2 separate regions of the Homo sapiens genome follow, and region 2 is reported to be linked to region 1. The links are microRNA targets in miRTarBase. Many come from high-throughput screens and were not tested one by one. Region 1 holds a microRNA gene; the other region holds the end of a gene's coding sequence.

What was found. Region 1 holds the annotated microRNA hsa-miR-3192-5p (UCUGGGAGGUUGUAGCAGUGGAA, at 1,396-1,418, shown strand). A microRNA usually pairs through its seed, bases 2 to 8, with sites in the 3' UTR of a target mRNA and lowers its output. Matches are read on the target gene's strand: a 7mer-m8 pairs with bases 2 to 8, a 7mer-A1 pairs with bases 2 to 7 and ends in A, and an 8mer does both.
Region 2: miRTarBase lists GLUL as a target of hsa-miR-3192-5p. Seed matches in the 3' UTR shown: 7mer-m8 at 732-738 and 8mer at 3,876-3,883.

Annotation. Positions count from the first base shown.
Region 1 is chr20:18,469,229-18,473,297 of GRCh38, forward strand. MIR3192 (microRNA 3192) reads left to right here and starts at 1,387; the gene lies at 1,387-1,463. POLR3F (RNA polymerase III subunit F) reads left to right here. Exons shown (of 9, transcript NM_006466.4): 3 at 3,614-3,681.
Region 2 is chr1:182,381,007-182,385,071 of GRCh38, reverse strand. GLUL (glutamate-ammonia ligase) reads left to right here. Exons shown (of 7, transcript NM_001033044.4): 7 at 349-4,065. The coding sequence ends at 667. Among named protein-coding and RNA genes, the nearest start is that of GLUL, 8.8 kb to the left of the region's middle. RefSeq lists a silencer at 3,604-3,898.

The DNA.
Region 1 (4,069 bases):
GGTTAGCATTTTGAATTGGTGAACGGAGTAAAGTAGATATGGGTCCAGTTGGGTGAGCATCATCCAATCCATTCAGGGCCTAAATAGAACAAAGTGGCAGAGGAAGATTGAATTCACTCTTTGAATTCAATCTTGAGCTGGGCTATGAATCTTGTGCCCTCAGCACTCCTGGTTCTCAGACCTTCAGACTTGGACTGGTATCTACACCATCAGCTCTCTGCTCTCAGCCCTTTGATCTGCAACACCAGCTTTCCTGGGTCTCCAGCTTGCAGAGGGCAGATGATGGGACTCCTCAGCCTCCATAATCACAGAGCAAATAGCTTCTGATGAATCTTTCAAGAGGGAGGTGTATCCTATTGGTTCTTTTTCTCTGGAGAACCCTAATACAGCAGTCATAAAACGAGAAAGTGTGTTAGGTTTGACTGATAAGACTCTAAACCAGGAAACAGCTCAAACTACCTGAATTGAAAAAAGAAGAAATAATTATGCGTTATAAGACAAATGAAATAAATGTATTATGGTATAACTGTTGTATTTATTAATTGCCACTGCCATACATAGGTCTAGTCTGTTCTCACCTTCTGTTTGCTTCCTACTGCTGGTGTTGGGCCATTTCCCATAAAATATTCCACCCCCCGATTTTCCTATGAGTTGTCACAGAGCCCAGTCATCAGGGTTTCATTCTCCACATTGTCACTCTGAGCATTTCAGGAAGCAAGAATGAGTCCAGTTGAATGAAGAATGTTGGGCTTTGGGGAGGAAGTGCAGCCTTAGCCCCCAGTGACATTGCAATGGAATTTATCAGTGAAGCCATTCTCCATCTGTCCAGAAACAAACAAGCAAGACTGTCTAAAAACCCACCAAGTGGTGCCGATGCTCTAAATCTCCCTTACTTTCCCTCATCACCAAAACATCCTTTTCCTAAGAGCATTTCAGTTTGGCTTTAGTAGCAGTTAGGTTAAAGAGTTCTACGCCAAGGCCTCATCTGAATGACTGATTTGTTTTTTAAGTCTACTAGCCTTGTTGGATTTCCAAGGGCTCTGGATGTGGAGATTTGGGGTCCGATGAATCTTTTCTTAAACCTTTCCCATCAATTTTCTAGCTCAGGAGTTGGCAAACTTTTTCTATAAAGTGCCAGACAGTATATGTTTTAGGCTTTGTGAGCCATATGATTTCTGTCACAACTACACTGTCATTTTAGCAAGAAGCAGCCATGGATGATGATACATAAACAAATGGCTACAGCCATGTTCCAACAAAACTTTGGTTATAAAAACAAGCTGTGGAGCAGATTGCTCACCCCTGTTCTAGCCCAAGGACAAAGGAATGTTGCTGATTTCTAGTTATTTCACTGTGGTGAAGGTCTTCAGCTCTAGGAAAGACAGAGGAAGGGATTCTGGGAGGTTGTAGCAGTGGAAAAAGTTCTTTTCTTCCTCTGATCGCCCTCTCAGCTCTTTCCTTCTGACTGAAAATCATCTTCAGCACCTCTCTTTTACCACCTCTGCCACCACCCACCCACTGCGAGTCCTATTGGCTATAGGTTGTATGCAGGCAGTAGTAGAGCTATCAAAGGATATTAAGAAAGGGAGTGATTATTAATAAATCATGTAATGTTTCTGATTTTAGCTCTTAAAAACAGTTCTTAAATTTGCTGTCCACACCCCCTCCATTTCTATCCCTGGTACTGCATCATGTTCAGGCTCATGGCTTTTACCTGGACAGCTGCAGTAGCATCTTAACTGGTTTCCATGACTCCATCTGTCTCAGAGAAGCCAGCCTGATTTGGGATTACAGTCATGAGCCACCGAGCCTGGCCCCTGATCTGTCTTAAATGCAGGTCTGACCAAGGCACTCTACCACCTACAATTTGTTTATACTGGAGATTCAAGTTCAAACTCCTGGGTTTCCCACACTGAGTCCCTGCATTGTTCACCAGCCTCATCTCCACCACTCTACTTCAAAAGTTAGGTTTCAGGAGGAGCAGATTGTTTTTGGTTTCTGGCCACATCATGCTGTTTCGTGCCACAGGACTCATGTTGTTCCCCTGCTTAGAAGGTTCTTCTTATTCTTTACAGATGACTAACGCATTAGGACTCAACTCTGCCATTGTCTCCAGGAAGTCACTGAACCCCCCCAGGTTGGGCCGCAGCCTGTTCTCCGAGTACCCAATCTGGGAGTTCAGGGTGGCTTTACTTACCTCTATCTTAATGCCAACCAGATGGGTATTGAAGTCACCTGTGTGTTTCCCTTTTAGAATTAATGTTGTTCCCCCAAACACCTATCATAACACCTGGCACAGTACAAGTATTCAGTAAATATTCATAAGCTGGATAAATGACCAGAGCCTCTGGATTGGGCCTTGTAGTCCTACTTTGCCACTTCGTGGGGTCAGGGAACAGGAGTGTGTCACTGTTCATTCAGTATGTAAATCCATTTCCAAGTCATGAGTGTCTGTTTTAAAACAAGGGAATGGGCTGGGCACAGTGGCTCCTGCCAGTAATCCCAGCACTTTGGGAGGCCGAGGTAGGCGGATCACTAGAGGCCAGGAGTTCAAGATCAGCCTGGCCAACATGGCCTAACCCTATCTCTACTAAAATACAAATATCAGCGTGGCATGGTGGCATACACCTGTAATGCTAGCTACTTGGGAGGCTGAGGCACGAGAATCGCATGAACCCGGGAGGCAGAGGTTGCAGTGAGCCGAGATTGTGCCACGGCACACCAGCCTGGGTGACAGAGTGAGACTCTGTCTCTAAATAAATACATAAATAAACAAGGGAATAGCGTCCCTCTCAACTGTGGCTTTCTAGTACTTCCAGAGCCTAGTGGTATAATTATCTGGGTTCTCTTAAGTTCGGACCCAAGGAAATTCAGGAGCATGACAGACATACTTTATTTTACTTTTGATTTGCTATATAAAAACAATACTACTCTAGTCCTTTTATTCATTGGCTGACTTCAGTAAATGTCACTGTTAACTTTTTTTGTTTTTTGTTTTGTTTGTTTTTTGCTTTTCAAGATGGAGTCTTGCTCTGTTGCCCAGGCTGGAGTGCAGTGGTGCGATCTCAGCTCAGCCTTCCATGTAGCCGGGACTACAGGCGCATGCCACTGCACCTGGCTAATTTTTGTATTTTTAGTAGAGACAGGTTTTCGCCATGTTAGCCAGGCTGGTCTCAAACTCTTGACCTCAAATGGACCACCTGCCTTGACCTCCCAAAGTGCTGAGATTACAGGTGTGAGCCACCACGCCCAGCCATTAACTTTATAAATTTTATTTTTCACTGTGCAACAGAATATGCCTATTTAGTCTTTATTTCAACTTTTTATTTATATAAATTATATTTTTATTTTATATATGTAATTTGGATTTATATTGATTTTTAATATAGATTGTTATTCTCAAGCTGCTTTTTAAAAATTCTTTATGCATTGATCATATAACCAAGCCAAGATCTAGCCTACAGGAAATTGTTAGTGATATTTTGAAAAATTTTGAGATTAAAGAGCAGGTTTTGAAAAATTAAGAATGTTAAAGAATGCATCAACATTTGTCATTTGATTTAACATATCTCCAAAATAACTGACTCCTGTTTTCTACTGTCTTAAAAACTAGGGTCAGTTGGATCTCTTAAGGAGCAATACGGGCCTTTTATATAGAATAAAGGACTCTCAGAATGCTGGGTAAGTACTTGTTTTTTTAATTTTAAGAAAATGTTTATTATTTGCAAACGTATGTGTTGGGAATAAAGCTAATACAAAATTACATAAACCTGTCCTGTGTATCATCCCTGCCTCCTATGATATATTCCATTTCCCAGAGGTAACTGCTCTTAATAATTTAGTGTATATCCTTTCTTCTAGCTATATATAAATACACATAGATGATTATATATTTATATATAATCTTTCTCTTTTTTTTTTAACAAAAATGGAATCATGCTATCCATTCTGTTTTGCAATTTGTTTTTTTCACTTACTGTATCTTGGACATCTTTTCATGTTGGTACACACAGCTCTGTCTCATTCTATTTAAGGTAAGCCTTTCTTTTGGTAAATATGTCACTGTGGT
Region 2 (4,065 bases), not on the chromosome of region 1:
AATATATATCGATATATATATTTGTGACATATGTCATGGTGACAGGGAAAAGTTGACAAATTCATGCATTTGAAAATCTTTTAGAACTAAATTAGTAACAATACAGGCATGTGGATAAGCTTAATGCTTATGAGGGGGAGAAAGTTTCAAATGATTAGTCTTTTCAACAAACAGTAACTTTGTACTGCTTGTCGGGCACTGTTCTCACCACTGAGACACACAGGTAAGAAGATGCAGCCACTGCCCTCATGAAGTATTTGTTCTACTGGTATCATATTTTGGTGCACTTCATTCTTGGCTCCATACCTGGAGACAAGGTTGGACTGCCATCTTTTCTGTTTACTCTAGGTACATCGAGGAGGCCATTGAGAAACTAAGCAAGCGGCACCAGTACCACATCCGTGCCTATGATCCCAAGGGAGGCCTGGACAATGCCCGACGTCTAACTGGATTCCATGAAACCTCCAACATCAACGACTTTTCTGCTGGTGTAGCCAATCGTAGCGCCAGCATACGCATTCCCCGGACTGTTGGCCAGGAGAAGAAGGGTTACTTTGAAGATCGTCGCCCCTCTGCCAACTGCGACCCCTTTTCGGTGACAGAAGCCCTCATCCGCACGTGTCTTCTCAATGAAACCGGCGATGAGCCCTTCCAGTACAAAAATTAAGTGGACTAGACCTCCAGCTGTTGAGCCCCTCCTAGTTCTTCATCCCACTCCAACTCTTCCCCCTCTCCCAGTTGTCCCGATTGTAACTCAAAGGGTGGAATATCAAGGTCGTTTTTTTCATTCCATGTGCCCAGTTAATCTTGCTTTCTTTGTTTGGCTGGGATAGAGGGGTCAAGTTATTAATTTCTTCACACCTACCCTCCTTTTTTTCCCTATCACTGAAGCTTTTTAGTGCATTAGTGGGGAGGAGGGTGGGGAGACATAACCACTGCTTCCATTTAATGGGGTGCACCTGTCCAATAGGCGTAGCTATCCGGACAGAGCACGTTTGCAGAAGGGGGTCTCTTCTTCCAGGTAGCTGAAAGGGGAAGACCTGACGTACTCTGGTTAGGTTAGGACTTGCCCTCGTGGTGGAAACTTTTCTTAAAAAGTTATAACCAACTTTTCTATTAAAAGTGGGAATTAGGAGAGAAGGTAGGGGTTGGGAATCAGAGAGAATGGCTTTGGTCTCTTGCTTGTGGGACTAGCCTGGCTTGGGACTAAATGCCCTGCTCTGAACACGAAGCTTAGTATAAACTGATGGATATCCCTACCTTGAAAGAAGAAAAGGTTCTTACTGCTTGGTCCTTGATTTATCACACAAAGCAGAATAGTATTTTTATATTTAAATGTAAAGACAAAAAACTATATGTATGGTTTTGTGGATTATGTGTGTTTTGCTAAAGGAAAAAACCATCCAGGTCACGGGGCACCAAATTTGAGACAAATAGTCGGATTAGAAATAAAGCATCTCATTTTGAGTAGAGAGCAAGGGAAGTGGTTCTTAGATGGTGATCTGGGATTAGGCCCTCAAGACCCTTTTGGGTTTCTGCCCTGCCCACCCTCTGGAGAAGGTGGGCACTGGATTAGTTAACAGACAACACGTTACTAGCAGTCACTTGATCTCCGTGGCTTTGGTTTAAAAGACACACTTGTCCACATAGGTTTAGAGATAAGAGTTGGCTGGTCAACTTGAGCATGTTACTGACAGAGGGGGTATTGGGGTTATTTTCTGGTAGGAATAGCATGTCACTAAAGCAGGCCTTTTGATATTAAATTTTTTAAAAAGCAAAATTATAGAAGTTTAGATTTTAATCAAATTTGTAGGGTTTCTAGGTAATTTTTACAGAATTGCTTGTTTGCTTCAACTGTCTCCTACCTCTGCTCTTGGAGGAGATGGGGACAGGGCTGGAGTCAAAACACTTGTAATTTTGTATCTTGATGTCTTTGTTAAGACTGCTGAAGAATTATTTTTTTTCTTTTATAATAAGGAATAAACCCCACCTTTATTCCTTCATTTCATCTACCATTTTCTGGTTCTTGTGTTGGCTGTGGCAGGCCAGCTGTGGTTTTCTTTTGCCATGACAACTTCTAATTGCCATGTACAGTATGTTCAAAGTCAAATAACTCCTCATTGTAAACAAACTGTGTAACTGCCCAAAGCAGCACTTATAAATCAGCCTAACATAAGATCTCTCTGATGTGTTTGTGATTCTTTCAAATCCCTATGTGCCATTATATTTCTTTATTTCCTAAAACAGGCAAAATAAGCTCAAGTTTATGTACTCTGAGTTTTTAAAACACTGGAGTGATGTTGCTGACCAGCCGTTTCCTGTACCTCTCTAAGTTGGGTATTTGGGACTTAAGGGATTAAGTTTTTCACCTAGACTTAGTTACACACAATCTTGGCATTTCCTAGCCTAGAGGTTTGTAGCAGGGTACAAGCCCCACTCCTCCCCCTTCCTTTGCTCCCCTGAGTTTGGTTTTGGCTTACCATAACATTGTTTTGACCATTCCTAGCCTAATACAATAGCCTAACATAATGTAAGATTAACTGGCTTTACGATTTCTATTCTCTGCTCTCAGTGATAAGAAACAAATATTAGCTACCCTGCTACCCTGGTTGAAGCCTTCCAAGGCTGGCTATGCCCTAGGCATGGGCTCATCCTTGGGTGTATCTTGCCTTGCAGGAAGACCAGTGGACCGATTGTGATTCTCAAAAGCTCTGTGTTGTCACCTGTGCCCTTGCCCCTTGCTCTTATCTTGGTCCGTGTATCTGGGAGTTCTTCCACCTTATCTTGGCCAATTCCTACCTTCGTTCATTCCTCATGAGGTTGGGTAAAAGCTCCCTCCGGCTCCCATGATGCTGTGCATATACCTAGCAAAAAGCAATTATTGGACACATTGGAGTGCAATATTATTAATAGCATTAATACTACTAATAATGTGGGCAATAGTGATTGTTTTTAAAAGGCAGTATACTCTTACCAGTGCGAGGTAGCTGGGGCCTGTGATAGTTTTTAGAGATAAGTTCTTCAGGCAACTGTGTATTTTACACTAGTCAAGTAATCCTAGATATCCGTGGTTTTTCTTAAGAAAGTTGGCTCGTAATATGATTTAATATTCAAAGTAGAGTCATCTACCTATTAGCTTGCTGGCGTGGTCCTAGTTTATGCCTGTTTCAGCATGATTGTTGAGTACCCTGTTTCATCCTTAGCATTTTCTTGATTTTGTTGTTAAATGATGTATACCCTTATTTCCATTGAATCTGTGCTTCCACCCCCCCAACTGAAGTTGTCTTCCCTTTGCTTGGCCACCCTTACAGCCTCTTGGATGGTGTATCCTACAGTGTAAGCACTAAACTGAAGAGGCAGTGACCTGAGCACTTTGGATTTTGTTCATTGTAATCAATTCCATGACAAAATGATTGCATGAGAAGGAATTTTAAATTCATAGGATCAGAATTTAGGTGAAAACAACCAGCATATTTGTTTCTTCACCCTCTCACCTAGAATTAGCTTTGACCTACAGGTCACAGTGCAATCCCCTTGTATTTCTAAGGTGTTTTTTATAGTTCATTTGCAGACAATGGGTTATGTGATAACTTTTATCAGTGATAGATTAAACAGAATAATGACCAAGCTTTCAACCTTAAGGAGTCAGGCCAGTATTTACAAAAGGAGGTCTCCATGAACTCCTTAAATATGAGTTCCCCTAATATCATCTTGCCAGGTACTAAATAACAACTGATAGCACAAGCTATAGGGAATTTGAAAGAATTCCATGGATGGGTGTTGTCTAGGGCCTTTTGTTGTTTTTGAGACGGGGTCTGACTCTCACCCAGGCTGGAGTATAGTGTGGCGCAATCTTGGCTCACTGCAACTTCTGCCTCCCAGATTCAAGCGATTCTCCTGCCTCAGCCTCCCAAGTAGCTGAGACTACAGGTGTGCACCACCATGCTCAGCTAATTTTTGTATTTTTAGTACAGATGGGGTTTCACCATGTTGGCCAGGCTGGTCTTGAACTCCTGATCTCCCAAAGTGAGGTCTTGAACTGGTCTTGAACTCCTCCACCTCCCA